Homo sapiens: one gene and its partner. The protein of the gene in region 1 interacts with the protein of each later gene in a biochemical or structural test. Each region holds a gene or a part of one and is shown on either strand. Other genes may lie near its edges.

Region 1 (7,400 bases):
TACTTTACTATGCCCCTACTTTATAGAGCTTTGCTCCCTCTGAGGAGCAGGACTGCCCTTCTCTGCTCTTTGCTGACCATCACTAGGAGGGTTCATGCTGGTTGGGATTGGATGGAATTCCCAGGGCTCTCTCCTCCCCAGGAACTGCTTTATCCATAGCCCTGGCCTCTGTCATGCTCATAGGGCTGGAGTATATTTTGGGCCACAATGCTCACAGCAAGAAGTCCCTGCTGCCAAGATTTACTCCTTGAGGTCTTGTCCCCACCCTCCCCTGCCCCCAGAGAGGCCAAGAGTATAAAGGGAGAGGAGGGTCACAAGGCCTGGGGACACTTCTCTTAAGGATTCTAGAGCTGCAAGACACACTGATGGCCTCAAGGGGGAGGCCCAGACATCTCTGAAGATCTTGCCTGGGCAGCACCAATAAGTACCCCAGGTGGTAAACTTGGGGCATGAGGAGGGTTCTGAGGAACCAGAGAAACACATGAGAAGAGCCCCCAGCCTGAATTAGCGTGAAGTCAACTCTGAGCAAGACTGTGAAGCAGGCGGTTTGCTTTGGTGTATTTTTTAAAATCATGTGATAGATGACCAACTAAGCTGAAAAGGCCATGAGGCTTAAATTATTCTCCATTCCAGAAGTAACTTCCTGTTAAAAGGAGACTCTTGAAAATGGAAAAGGTTCCAAGCCCCAAAGAAATGACTCTAATGGTGAAATTTTCAGCAAGATGAGAAGTTCCTCTGCTTCTTCAGGTCAAAATCCCAGCATTTATCTCCTAAACGACCCAGCTCTGTAGATACATAGATGCCACTCCTCACCTGTCCTCCCATCCCCCAAGCTCCCACAGTGGGCCCATAGGAGGGAAAAGCACAGACCTTTTAGCCACCAGATGACACGATTGTACATTTCCTCAGAGACATCTGAAAGTAACAGAGAGATGGTTGCTTTTCTTCTCTCTGTGGGATGCACATCCCACTCTCCACTACTTGCAGCTCCCTTTCTAGCTCCACATTTCTCCACTCAAAGGTGCCCTCAGCCCTTGGTCCTCTCCAAGAAGCTCCTCCAGCCTAGGACTATATATCGTATTCCCACTCTCCCTTTCTCTTTTTTACACCCTCTCTCTGTGCCACTGTGAATGCCTTTCCCCTCCTGGAATCCCAGCTCATCTGCATCCCACCCTCTCCACTTTGTAGCCAGAGTATTTACCTGAGGCCCTTATTCTATTTAACAGCCCTTGCCAGCCCTCACCCCAGCTCAGTTCTTCATCCCCACTCAGGAAGCAGCTTTCAACCCTGCAAGCCCCTCTCTACTACCTTCAATTAAAAAGGTAAGCAGTGTTGCCTGGAGGAGTCAATGCCTGTCGCCCGGCCCAAGCATCCATCATCAATGTCATTAGCTTGGAGCACAGAGAAGCTGGCAGGGAAGGAATGGAGCAATAGGCTCAAGGATAGGACTAGCTTTGGCACTGGCAGGAGAGCAGCCCTTAGGCCCAGAATGAAGAGGTGGTCTTTCCTGCCCACCCCAACATCCCATCTCACTAAATTGGGGCTGCACCTGGGCAGTCTGCTTCTTCACATACCCAGGAAGAAAGCAGTAAACCTTTGAATGGGTTGTTTGCAGGTGTGCTTGGGGGTCTGTGGCACTTCACTCAGTGGTGCCCAACTTGGAAACTCCTTTGGTGGTGATGGTGGTGATAGGCTTGCCTTCTCTCTCTGGAACTTCAGATCCTCACAGAAAGGGCTAGAGTCTATTTTAAAACCGGACAATAAAAGATCTAGGGAAGGAGAGCACTTAGGCTCAAAATCCGGTGTTGTCAGCTGGCTTTGGGGTGTTTCAACTTCAGGATTCAGCAAGGGCCACCATGAGGAGTCAGGTCCGTACCTAGGTAAGGACCGAGGAGGCAAGGGCCTAGGGGTCAGTTCCAGTTCTGCATGGATGGAGGGCTTTTGCGAGAGTTCTGGATACCTGGGTGTAGGTCCTTGGGACATGTAAGTAATTTCTGGGGGTTTTTGGGTTTGCTGTTTATAGATGGGCTCTGGAGTAACAAACATGGATGACTTGTGGGAGCCCTCAGACACTGATGGAACTGTCACATGGTGAGTTGGCTCTACTGACTGTACCCCTGGGGAGATGGTGACCCTGCGGCCAACCTCGCTGTTTCCTCGGATTGGGGTCCTCACGTTGGACTCCACCTGTGATGATACTAAGACCTTTGCGGAGGGCTTGGTTTCAGGATAGGCAGAATACTTATGAAGAGACTCAGGGTCTACCCGTGCAGAAACTCGGTGTACACCATCAGAATCTTTAAGGACAGAGAGTTTGAGCAATGAGTCCAAGTTCATATTCCTATACAAGGCCTTGGGTTTTGAAGGAATTGGACCGTAAGGACCTGTTTCTGATTCTTCTACAGGGACCCTTCTCTGGGCTGTCTGATAGTCTGCAGAGACACAGCTGCTTCCGTGCTCTAGGAGAGAGGGACTCCTTGGAGATCTGATCTCACTAGTAGTCGTAATTCTTTGGATGGGCTCAGTTTGTACTGCTTCATCCTTTGGGTAAGACAAAATCCTACGGGGAACTCTGACTCCTTGGGGGTTCTGGACCTTGGATGGTGGGTCATCTTCTAAGATTTGTGATTGTAAGTTATTCTTCTGGTCTTGAAAACTCAACTGATGAGTAGATTTGGCATCTGGGATTGATGAAGCATGATGGCCGACCTCGCGCCCTGACTTGCTCTCACTGCCTCTTCGTGCTGCTTCCTCTCTGGGTGGACTAACTTTCCATTGTCTGCTTGAAGCATGGGAAGCCAGTGTCTGAGTCTTCTGGCTCTTTAGATGGGGAGAGGAATGGCGGGATGATTCTGTTCTTGGTCCAGTCTCGGGTCCCCGAGGAGTGGGTACTGCATAGTGTCCAGGTCCTGACTGGAGGGAGACAGATCGAGGGTAGTCTGATGCTGAATGGGGAGTGGTGGGATGTGCAGCTTCTGATCTTCGGTGGGAAGGGTTCAGGGAGACTGCAGCACTTCGATGGCTTGAGGCAAGAACGTACCCATGTCCCTGCTGAGGGGATGTGTTAGTAGTAACCTCAGACCCTCTCTGTGCTGAAACCGCTACCTTGGCCCCAGGTTTATTTGTCTTGACCATCTGATAGATTGTGCCCTTCTGAGTAGATCCCGTATTTTACTGGCTGGCTTGTATTCAGGATCCTAATGATGCCTGAATATTTACCCTGTTTTAAAGCTGCTGTTTCTTGGGCTCCCACAAAAGTGGCTGTTGTTCTAAGAGTGTCTCAAATAATCCCCTTAGCTACCTCTCTGTCTGGTGATGTCATAAAGGAAGGAGCTTCCTTCCTATTAAACATCCTAGTGTACAGCCACAATTCTTCACAGAATCCCAAAGAAGTACCTGAAAGGAATCTGTGGATTTGTCTTTGGAGTTATATCACCAAGCCTTTGGCAAGTTTTTAACAAAACTGGGATTTCCTTGTACATAGAGAAGGCTCCAGACCCTCCTTTACTCTCCCGAGATTCTAGAAATTCTCAGGACTCATCCAGAGAAGGAATCAGCCAGAAGATCCTATGAAGACAAGATCAAACCAAACACGCTGTGTTCGCCCCAGTTTTAATAAGGTACGAAGTACAAAGTTGCCCCAATTTTGTTTGAAACTGTACTGTATACAAGTTAAAAAAAAAAAAAAAAAGAGAGCTTCAGCTTTTTCCAGGTCTCATGGATTGTTTCATTGCTCCTGGGGTAAAAATCCAGGTTGCTCAAATAATAAAATTCTCACATTCTTGCTCCAGGAGAGTTTAGTGTTTTATTAATAAAAGGGATTTGCCATGTGCGGTGGCTCACGCCTGTAATCCCAGCACTTTGGGAGACCGAGGCGGGTGGATTGCCTGAGGTCAGGAGTTTGAGGCCAGCATGGCCAGCATGATAAAACCCCGTCTTTACTAAAAATACAAAAAAATTAGCCAGGCATAGTGGCAGGCACCTATAATCCCAGCTACTCAGGAGGCTGAGGCAGGAGAATCGCTTGAACCCGGGAGTTGGAGGTTGCAGTGAGCTGAGATTGTGCCACTTTACTCCAGCCTGGGTGACAAGAGCAAAACTCCATCTCAAAAAATATATATAAATAAAAACAAAATAAAAGGGATTTGGGCTGGGTGCAGTGGCTCACACCTGTAATCCCAGCACTTTGGGAGGCTGAGGCGGGTGGATCACCTGAGGTCAGGAGTTTGAGACCAGCCTGGCCAACATGGTGAAACCCCATCTCTACTAAAAATACAAATATTAGCCAGGCGTGGTGGTGCGTGCCTGTAATCCCAGCTACCCGTGAGGCTGAGGCACGAGAATCGCTGGAACCTGGGAGGCGGAGGCTGCAGTGAGCTGAGATCGTGCCACTGCACTCCAGGCTGGGTGACAGAGCAAGACTCCATCTCAAAAAAAAAAAAAAAAAAGAAAGAAAGAAAGAAAGAAGGAATTTGGAGTTAATCATTGGTTTCCATCATAAATGACTACAGGTGTACCTAGGAGAAATTACCTGCCTTCCCTGGGACTTGGTTTCTTCACCTGGAAACCACTGCCTGGTACATGGGTGTCACACAACAAATGTTAATGTCCTTTCTCATGATCCTGTCAGCTATCCAATCAGCCGGACTCCGGTTCTCTCTTGAAAAGTGACTTTCCAATTTGGATGACCATTTTGGAGGAGACTCTGTCACCTTTCTCTCCCTTTCACATGCTCTTTCTCTCATTCTCTCTTTTAGACATAGACTCTACCATATCCAAAATTCTATTATGAACTCTGAAGGGTCATTGAGATTATAGGATGGTCAGCTTCATTTTTCTTTTTTTTTTTTTATTTGAGATGGAGTTTCAAATAAACTGTGCCCAGGCTGTTGCCCAGGCTGCAGTGCAGTGGCGTGATCTTGGCTCACTGCAACCTCTGCCTCCCGGGTTCAAGTGATTCTCCTGCCTCAGCCTCCCGAGTAGCTGGGATTACAGGCGCATACCACCATGCCTAGCTGATTTTCTTTTTTTTAGTAGAGATGGGGTTTCACCATGTTAGTTAGGCTCGTGTCAAACTCCTGACCTCAGATAATCTACCCACCTCGGCTTCCTAAAGTGCTGGGATTACAGGTGTGAGCCACCGTGCCCAGCCAGTTTTAAGTATTTCTAAACCCTTTCTATTCCCCAAAATGAAAGCAGCTTTGGCTAGGTGTGGTGGCCCAGCCTGTAATCCCAACACTTTGGGAAACTGAGGTGGGCAGATCACTTTAGCTCAAGAGTTCGAGACCAGCCTGGGCAACATGGTGAGATCCCATCTCCAGCAAATAAATAAATAAATATTTTAAAAAATTAGAAAACAGTTTTACAAATAATTATAAAAAGTTGAAATCACCTAAGAGGACCCCGTTACTATTTTAATAAGCATCTTTCCACATTTCTTTCTATGCATTTACTATGTAGACATTTAATTATAAATTTACATAGTCTTATTATAAACTTCCCAGCATCCTAGTACTAGCATTATTCCATAACATGTTATGAATACCTTTCTGTCAATAAATCTGTATCTATGATGTAATTTCTAATTAATCCACTTATGGTTGTTCCAGAATGTTTCAAATGAGTCCTTTACTGCTGGACATTAAGTTGTTTCTTTTTTTTCTTGCTATGGTGCCCAGGCTGGAGTGCAGTGTCTGTTCATAGGCCTGAGCACAGCACACTAAAGCCTCAAAGCTTCTGGGCTCAAGTGATTCTCCTGTCTCAGCCTACTGAGTAGCCCACCTCATTTGGGTTGTTTCTAATTTTTCAATATTATAAACAATGTTGCAATAAACATACATTACTATAAATATATATTTGTGTATATTCCAATTTTCTCCTTAGGACAATAGTTCTAAATCCTGGCTGCACATTAGAATCACCTGGAGATCTTTCAAAGCCCATGCTCCACCTCAGACAAAATGAATCAGATAATTTGGGGGTAAGGCTTGAGCACCAGTATTTTTTTAAATGCCTCAGATGGTTCTAATGTGCAACCAGGGTATAAAGTTCTCTAAATCCTCTCTATTCAAAGTGTAGTCCGTGGACCAGCATCATCAGCACCACCTGGGAGCTTGTTAGAAATTCAGGAGCTTGGGGCCCACCTTGGACCTACTTAGTCAGAATCAGTATTTTAACAAGACCCTCAGGTGATACATATGTACAATAGAATCTGTGTCATACTGGTCTAAATGGAGTTTCTGGGTCAAAAAGTAGTCACATTTAAAATACATACTGACAAATATCCTCCAGAGAGGTAGTACCAATTTATACCCCCAACACAGTGAATGAAGATGTCTGTTTCCCCATACTCTCAGCAACCTTAGATGTTATCAATACTTGTCCTCCGCAATCAGTGAGGTAAAAAACAACCGTGTTTTAATTTGCATTTCTTTGATTACAAGTTAAACTGAACATCTTTTAATATGCTAATTGGCTGTCTGTACAGCTTCTTTTGTGAATTGTTCTTTGTCTATTTTTCTATTAAGGTGTTTGTCTTTTTCTTACAGGTTATTAGAACTCTTTGTATATTAGGGATATAAACTTTTTGTTTATCCAATATATTGCAATTATTTCCACCCAGTTTGTTGACTTTATCCTTGTCCAGACATTATTTGCAGTAAAGAAGTTTTACATTCTTAATTCCCAAACTTTATACTTTGGTATGTTTTTTGGACTATTTGGGTTTTTTGAGTTTTTTTGAGACAGGATCTTGCTCTGTCACCCAGGCTGGAGTGTGATGGTGTGAACACAGCTCACTGTGGCCTCAACCTCCTGGGCTCAAGTGATCCTCCCACCTCAGCCTCCCGAGTAGCTGGGACCACAGGCATGTGCCACCGCACCCAGCTAATTTTTAAATTTTTTGTAGAGATGTGGTCTCACTGTATTTCCCAGGCTAGAAACTCTCTATTATGTTCTATAATTCTTACCATTCTTATGCCAATGCCATACTGTTTATTGCAGCTTTATACTACACCTTAATATACGGTAGGACAAGTCCCTCCTCCTTACTCTTCTTTTGCAGCATTGTTTTCAACCATGCATTTATTAAAAGTCCTTTAATTTTACTCTACTATACAATTAGTAGTATCCAGTAGGAGAGTGGATTTTACTTATTTAACTCCCACAGGACCAACTTATTTCTGAGCTCTTGGGGGGCACCTCACTATAACCCACTTCCAATACCAACATATATGAGTACATAACATTACCATTAGCATTCAGAAAGAAGCCAAAAGTAATGTATTTGGAAAAGAGCAATTGAAATTTATTCCAAAAATTTCTTTTTTTTTTTAAAGACAGAGTCTCACTCTATTGCCCAGGCTGGAGTGCAGTGGCATGATCTAGGCTCACTGCAACCT
Region 2 (8,261 bases), on another chromosome or scaffold:
TCCTAGCTACTGGGGTGGCTGAGGCAGAAGAACTGCTTGAACCTGGGAGGCGGAGGTCGCAGTGAGCTGAGATCACGCCAACGCACTCCAGCCTGGGTGACAAAGCAAGACCCTGTCTCAAAAAAAAAAGTATACATATTTAAAGAAAGCCATAAGACTAAAGCTATCCTGCCTAAAGCTCTAACAGTCACTATCTAGATATTACTGGTGGAGGTATAGAGTCAAGGAAGCAATTCATCAAGGAAGCAAAGGGCCATGCTTTGACCCTCTATCCGTTTCATTGATAAGTAGGTCACAGCATTCCTGGAGAAGCAGCTCAATTAGAAATACCATGGGAAATACAAAGAGACTACCAAGTTTAGTGTCTTCCCCCATATGGGGTCACCCAAGCCTCATTCTTAGAGGCCTGGTAGCACCTCAACTTTAGATTATTTCTAAAAGATTTATTTCAAAAGTTTATGTATATAGCTTTAAAAAGTAATACAGAAAGGCCTATATGAAAAAACAATGGTCCCCTGACCATTGCCACCCAATCAATTCTGATCTGTAGAGAAGACTATTTTATTCCATTAGCTCCATTTTTTTCTCATCTGATGGCTACCTTCACATCTTAATAAACGTATGCAGCTAATAAATGTATGCAGCCATTCTTTTTTTTTTTTAGATGGAGTTTCTCTTGCCAGGCTGGAGTGCAGTGGCACAATCTCGGCTCACTGCAAGCTCCACCTCCCAGGTTCCAGCGATTCTCCTGCCTCAGCCTCCCAAGTAGCTGGGACTACAGTCACGTGCCACCACGCCCAGCTAATTTTTGTATTTTTAGTAGATATGGGGTTTCACCTTGTTGGCCAGAATGGTCTCGATCTCGACCTCATGATCCGCCTGCTTTGGCCTCCCAAAGTGCTGGCATTACAGGCGTGAGCCACCGCGAGTGCTGGGATTACAGGTATGAGCCACTGCGCCCGGCTGCAGCCATTCTTAATTAATTTTTGGGCATCTAAAGAATCTGCTTTCTTACCCCTTCACACATTCCTTAACCCCATCTTCTCATCTTGCTCATTTTAATAAATCAGTAAACAACATTTACCATTTCTATCACTCTGCAACTGTTGTTCATTATATAGTAGCCTTTAAAACTTAAAAAGGGAGGTACAAATTTTTCCCTTTGATTCCAGTAATTTATCCTCTATGGCAAAGTTTAAGTCTAATTTTCATTCGTACCTCTAACCGGGTGACTGAAAAATATATAAATATAAACCCGCTACAAATGGGACAGATCTTACTATGATAGGCTTCATAGATGGCCTTACTTTTCTTTTTCCTGTTCATGGTAGTGAAGGAAGATCATTTAAAGGAGGGGATATACAAATACACAAGGGAAATCTATTAATGGTAAATTGCATACCTAGGTGTAAATAAACTACCTCAGATCCTCTGTACTACGAATAAATACCAAACTGAATAAACTTAGGAATTGACCATCATCTATCTAACTTCTAGGGCTGTGATCATAAATGGCAGAATGTCTTATTTAGTGTTTCAACACTGGGGCAAAAGGGAGAACATATCCTTGTTAACATAAAAGAATATAGATACTGAAAAATAGATTTTTCATTTATCTAGAATTTTAAAATCTAGAATTCTAAAACAGAAAATTCCCCTATGTTCAAAATTGATGTCCATAATGATACTCGAAGCATTCTAAGTGTTTTCTGAATTGTGAAAGTTTAATTTTTTCCAGTCAAGTTTGCATTATACTTCAATTCATTAAACATGGTCACTGCTATGGTGACCACTGTAAATTAAATGGCCAGCAATTCAGTTAACAAGAACCCCATCTCCCTCCTTTCATGTATTTGTATAAATATAATTATTCTGAACAAATGTCACGGAAACATAAAAGTATGATACTCACACTTGGCATACAGACAGTCCATCATTGACTGCACTAAGTCCAGTTTGGCTTTTATGGAAAAGTTGATAAAGTTGGTATCAACGAGGATGTGGTAAGGTGGGCCCAGCTGTGTATTATATTGGAAAAATAAGCAGGAAGGGTGTTGGGGACTGAAGGAAAAAGAAAACAAGAACAAAGAAAAATTTACATTGATACCCTAGTATTAACAAAAACAAAAAAGAAGTCTGCTTGGGACTGTTTGCTGTAAACTCTTTTGTCCATGTTCATTGGAAATAAATCCTAAAAAGGAAGGCAAGGAAGAAAGTAATATCATTATCTTAATCTCAGCTCCCCTGGCAACCTTTGTCACCAACTTTAAAAAAGCAATTATCAAAAACAAACAAACAAAAAAAGCAATTATCCAATCTAGCTCTTCCTCTAGCAAAAGTAGAATCACCATGGGCACAGGGAGGTAGAATACAGTTATCGTGATTAGAATGATACAACAACACGTTTGTCATTCTTAAAGGATTCTAAAACTGCTGTTATGGAATGTGATAGAGAACAGTTTGTCTAGTGTTAGGATTATATACTACAGCAGGACCTGTATCACATCTAGCCCAAGTTGTCTGGGTTGAATATGACAGTGATTCCAAATGCTAGGCCATGGATCAGTATCTACCTGTGATAATATGTCCATTACCAATCCAGGGAAAAATTAGAAAAATAAGGAAAATGTGGTAAAGTTTTCATAAAGTTAAATGTACTTACTTAAAAGGAATGAAATACCTTTATATCTTTATATAAAGGTCATATCTTTATATAAATATCTTTATTCTGAAAATATATTTTAAATATTTTTTGGTGATACAGTCTCTCTTTTATGAACTGCTGGTGTGTTAAACAATGGCACTTATGTCTCTTAAAAGATCCCTGGCAAAGAAAAAGTTAATAATCCTAGATAATATCTCCAGGATTTTAGGGGAAATTTTACTGCTCCATAAAATCCCAAAACCTTCAAACCACTAGAATTGATATATGCTCATCGATATGACTTTCATCTACATAGTTGTGCTAGACTTACTAACAAATAAGTTAGCAAACCAGCTCAGGGAAAGCCTGGATTTCTAAGAGGTCTATGGTTTTAAAGGAAAACTTCAAACGTTTGATTACTCACACTTCTCTTTCCTTTAATGCGCTGGGATCCTTCTTTTCTTTCTTTTTAGGTTTTAATCTATCCTTTTCTTTACTAGGAAGAAAAAGGTAAATTAAATCCAAGGGAGAAGAAAAACCACAGCAATTAAAATCTCAAAAATCTAAAGTTCCATTTTTTTTTTTTTTTGGTCTACTGAAGAAATCCTACTTTGTGATATCCTCATGTTAATATCAGCATACTCTTTCTGAGCAAATAACTCTAGTGCAAAGCACAGTACCTGGAAGTATCAGAATTAACCAGTAATGCCAATAATGCATAAGAATTGTTAATGAGTAAATAAAAGCTGATTATACTATATTTATTTTTTAGTCAGAATCTCTCACATCAAGGATCACAATCCACTTCCAAGCAATGGGTAAAAGGGTGACAGTTATCTTCTGAAGATTCAGATGCTTTAACTTTTGGGGGAAAAGTATTACCCCATATGCTTCTTATAAAGGGCTAAAATGTAAAAACGCATATACAGAACTTAACCCTTAACTAGAAAGAAATTATTATTAATGGAGTGTCATTCCTAAAAATTACACAATACATCCACACTAAAGGCTGAGAATAATAATTCTGAAGGTTTTAACGACTATTCTCTTATTCTGAGACTCTTTTTTGTATTTTTAGTGGAGACAGGGTTTCACCGTGTTGGCCAGGCTGGTTTTGAACTCCTCACCTCAGGTGATCCACCCGCCTCAGCCTCCCAAAGTGCTGGGATTACAGGCGTGAGCCACTGCGCCCGGCTTTCTGAGACTCTTAAACTCAGTGAAGATCAGTCTTTATTTAATAGCTATGCTTATTCTACACTTAAGCAGGGACACCGCTTTGATCCTCTTCATACTAGGGAATTTCACTTCACTTTCTTCTTCCACAGTGATTTGGATTCTTATATTAGTAAGACTTATAAAATGGAGATATCTTGGAGTTTTCCCATTTTCTCTGACAAAAATATTTGAGTACCAGGCACTGGAAACGCCAGACAAACAAGGTCTCTAACCTTGCCATCTTTCAACAAGAAACACTCCCCTCGCCCCACCCCAGGGGAATGTAGTAGTGTAATGGTAAAAACATAAAGAGAACTATACGGACTTCACCGAACTGACATGAGGTTTAAATGCGATATGGCAGACAAAGCATATAACGGTAGAAAAAGTGAACACTTAAGAAATGTTTAATTCCCATCGCCTTTCCCAGTGTGATCGCTCAGCAGCTAAATTACTGTTAAACACTGGCTATCTCATGCTATATAAATCTAAGACACGATAATAAGCAAAAAACAAAATAATAACAACAAACATTTTTACTACTTATCCTCTCTAGACTCTTATTAGAATATCCCTGGGCAGTTGATTCCAGACACTCACAGCCTCTGATCTCTGAGACTAAGCATTCGCTTCATGGTCGCATACTTCCTTGTTTTCTTTTGCTTCCCCTTGAAACAGAAATTTTAGAATTAAAAAAGTTGGAAACACACGGCATCTTTTAAAGTCTCTTCTTTTCTCTTGTCTATTGCCTTCCCTTCTTGCCTCAAATAACCCAGACCCTCTTCCCCACTCTGTAAAGCATAACAGTCACCGCTTGGAGAAGTTTAAGAGCTAAGACCAGAATGAAAATATGCTAGGATAATGTGAAGGAAATTTGGCCACGGTCTGACTACCTCCTTCTCCACCCAAAAAGTGGCCTGATAACGTCCCTTCTTGGACCGTCTTCTCTCACCATGGTCACGCCAAACTCCTGGTTCTTCCGTAATCACCAACGGCGCAATACTTCTACGTCATTCACATACTGCTTCCGGCAAAGGATAGCCCGGAAGCGGAAACTCCTTGGGGAAAGGGCAATCCCCCGAGCCGGTTCCCAGGCCGGGTGGAGACCAACTCTGGGGTCTGTTGGTGGGAGAGTGGGGAGCCCGTCTTCTGCTGAGTGCTGCCGCCCCTTCCCAGGACAGCGGAGGTGGAACTTCGTCGCGCTGCAACCCCCGGCTCGGGTAACGTTTCTCTCCAGCCTTAGGCAGAGCCCAGAAGACCTGCCTTTACCAGAGTTCCAGAGAGAGAGGGAGGAAAAGGGTAGGGGGGTTCAGACTCCTGGTTTGCCCAGTAGTTTGGGGGAACACATTCTCCTCACCCTGTAGCGTTGGGGTATCCGGTGTCTATGGTCCAGCCCTGAGGCTGTGGTTCCTATTTGGTTTTCCTAGCCGATATGGTGCTTTGTGCAGCTAGGTGGATGATTGTTCTCGAGTATATACCGTGTACTCCTCTCGGTGAAGAGAGAAATGAAGCAGTGTTTGAGGGCCTAGACTATCGCTAGAGAATTGGGGCATAAGCTTGCATATGTTACTACTTACCCAAGCCAAGAAAATGGTGAGATACAATGCACATTTATTGTGAAGCCTTGGTGTGTCATCTTTAAGTAAAAAGGGAGAATTTGTGAGAACAAGGAGCGAAAGGTAGCTTTTTTCTTTGAGTACCTGCTATGTATTCCAGTGGTTCTTAACTTTTTGGAGATAACTTATTTCTTGAAAGTTTGTGGAAAGCCAGGAACAATTCTTTAAAAAATGGGCACACATACAGTTTGTAATACACTTAATGAGATTGGTGGACTCTGAAGCCCATCCGTGGACCCTCTGGGTGTCTGTAAACTTTAAATGAAAACCCCCATCCTGTATACTGTACTTGTCACTTTATTCATATTACCTTCTTTGACCTTCTCAATAACATAAATTCTTTTATTTTACATATGGGGAAATTGAGCCCCAGACTTTGTTCAGGGGTCTGTTTGAGTCTCGTGATTCCAAAGTCTGTACTTGTATTTCTTTTTTTCTTTTTCTTTCTTTCTTTCTTTCTTTTTTTTTCTTTTTTTTTTTTTTTTTTTTTTTTTTTTTGCACTTTGTCTTCCATTCTCCAGCTACTGATCAAGCTGGGAACGGAATGGGTACCTCTGTCATACTTTTCTTATTGCATGATGCTATCCTAGAGTTGGAAGTAAAATATGTTATCAGGTTTAAAAAAGAAGGTGACCATTGTATAACCCTTATGATGAAAACACGTTTATTGTTTAACACGAACTTTGGAGTCTGACTGATGGGGTTAAAATCCTTGCTCTGCCTTATAACTCGCCATGACATTGGGTGAGTTAATCTATCTGCATCTCAGTTTCTTTATCTGTAAAATGGAGATAATCATAGTAGCACTCTTTTATTGGGATGTTATCAGGACTTATGTTTATTCATAGTTAACATGCGAGGTCCCTAGAAGAGTGTAAACCAGACTACTCAGAGTGTTTTCTGTTGTTACCATTGTGTGTCTTCCAACTTGAGGATGTGTGGCAGGGTTGGAATTTTATGCCAATTTTATTTTATTTTATTTTATTTTATTTTTGAGACAGAGCCTCCCTCTGCTGCCCAGGTTGGAGTGCAGTGGCGCAATCTCGGCTCACAGCAACCTCCCCCTCCCAGGTTCAAGCAATTCTCCTGCCTCAGCCTCCCGAGTAGCTGGGACTGCAGGCATGTGTGTGCCACCATACCTTGCTAATTTTTGTATTTTTAATAGAGATGGGTTTCACCATGTTGGCAAGGCTGGTCTCAAACTCCTGACCTCAGGTGATCTGCCCACCTCGGCCTCCCAAAGTTCTGGGATTACAGACGTGAGCCACTGTGCCAAGCCCCAATTTTTTTTTTTTTTTTTTGAGACGGAGTTAGTTTCGCTCTTGTTACCCAGGCTGGAGTGCAATGGCGCAATCTCGGCTCACTGCAACCTCCACCTCCCAGGTTTAAGCGATTCTCCTGCCTCAGCCTCCTGAGTAGCTGGGATTACAGGCGTGCGCCAACACGCCTGGCTGATTTTATATTTTTAGTAGAGACGGGGTTTCTCCATGTTGGTCAGACTGGTCTTGAACTCCCGACCTCAGGTGATCCGCCCACCTTGGCCTCCCAAAGTGCTGGGATTACAGGCGTGAGCCACCGTGCCTGGCACCAGCCCAATTTTATTTTAACATAGTTGCACTGGAACTTGAACGTGTTCATAAACCTCAAAACATTAAGTTTTCAGGTCCTGGGATGCTCAATCGCAGGGTGATTTCTTCTGTTGATTTGGGTGTAAACTTTTTCTGCTTCTCCTTTCTCTTTCAGGCACACATTCATTTAGATGGCTTAATAGTTTACATATCTGTGGGCACTGAATTTTTGATGTAGAAATGGTAGCTACAGATACTGTATGTGCCTTCTGCTTTACCCCATTTGTGGTCACTAGAAGTTCCTAATCTTTCTGGAGCAGCTTGTCTCTGTCAAGCTGCCATTCATGTGTAGAGCTAATAGCAACCAGTTTTTTGATGTATCTCTTGGTGATTAGACAATAAGCTTTTTATTGTCTAAAAGCTAAAATAACATGGTCAGTTATTCTTCTTAAACATTTGACTCATTAGTATTATATATAGGTTCAGAGGGAAAATTGCATATCATTAAATAGTAATTTGCATTTAAATTTAGGCACTGACAGAAAAACGCTCTTCTGGTAATGTGTACTTTGAATTTTGGAATCCATGAACAACAACAACTTAAAAAAAGGCCATTTGTAATTTCTATTGTAACCTCTATTGAGAGTGTTCTGATTTCCTTGATTGTTAATACCTAATAGGGAGCTAAATTAGTGTAGGAACACCATGGGGGATAAGAACATACTTAGAAAAATTTGTTTTTGTTGCATTGTAATTTTATTGCAATCTGAGGTTCTTATAGCGTGAAATGAAAGTGGTCAGATACTCTACAGCATTCTTTGATGGGGATGGAAAGTGGGGGATGCGAAGCTGGGAGGTAGTGTTGATTTGTGATGGATGGGAGCAGAAAGTAATTGCTTTTGGGCACATACTTGTGAGGAAAAGAAATGATTTTAGTCCTTCTCAGCAGTCAAGAGGGTTGTTTTGCATTTTTCTGCAGTCTTGAAGAGAAAAAATCACCCAAGGCATTGGACACACAGTTTGAACACATAATTGGGCTTGGACTTCATTCCATTCACTAATTGGTCTAACTTACTAATTTAAGTTGGTATCAAATTTCTTTGTAAAATTATTCTGGATAATGAAAGACTCCTTAAAGAACATCTTGTATTTCAATGTTAGAAAGTTATAAGTAGATTCACTTTTTTGTCCATTTTCAAGTTATAGTTTTTACATTTA

The links.
Region 2: of the proteins of SEPTIN4 (region 1) and AREL1, one has a biochemical effect on the other in vitro, tested with the Homo sapiens proteins (one study listed by BioGRID).

What each region holds. Positions count from the first base shown.
Region 1 is NC_000017.11:58,541,052-58,548,451, forward strand, and holds the start of SEPTIN4 (septin-4), read right to left. Parts: upstream 3,278-7,400; 5' UTR 3,136-3,277; coding exon 1,575-3,135; intron 916-1,574; coding exon 871-915; coding exon of another isoform or gene 715-870; exon of another isoform or gene 533-714; intron 1-532. UniProt on the Homo sapiens protein: Filament-forming cytoskeletal GTPase. Pro-apoptotic protein involved in LGR5-positive intestinal stem cell and Paneth cell expansion in the intestines, via its interaction with XIAP. May also play a role in the regulation of cell fate in the intestine.
Region 2 is NC_000014.9:74,709,751-74,718,011, reverse strand, and holds the start of AREL1 (apoptosis-resistant E3 ubiquitin protein ligase 1), read left to right. Parts: upstream 1-4,931; 5' UTR 4,932-5,079; intron 5,080-8,261. Other genes in the region: rRNA-processing protein FCF1 homolog, read right to left, coding at 1,913-2,061, 3,069-3,140, 4,460-4,527, 4,812-4,814. UniProt on the Homo sapiens protein: E3 ubiquitin-protein ligase that catalyzes 'Lys-11'- or 'Lys-33'-linked polyubiquitin chains, with some preference for 'Lys-33' linkages.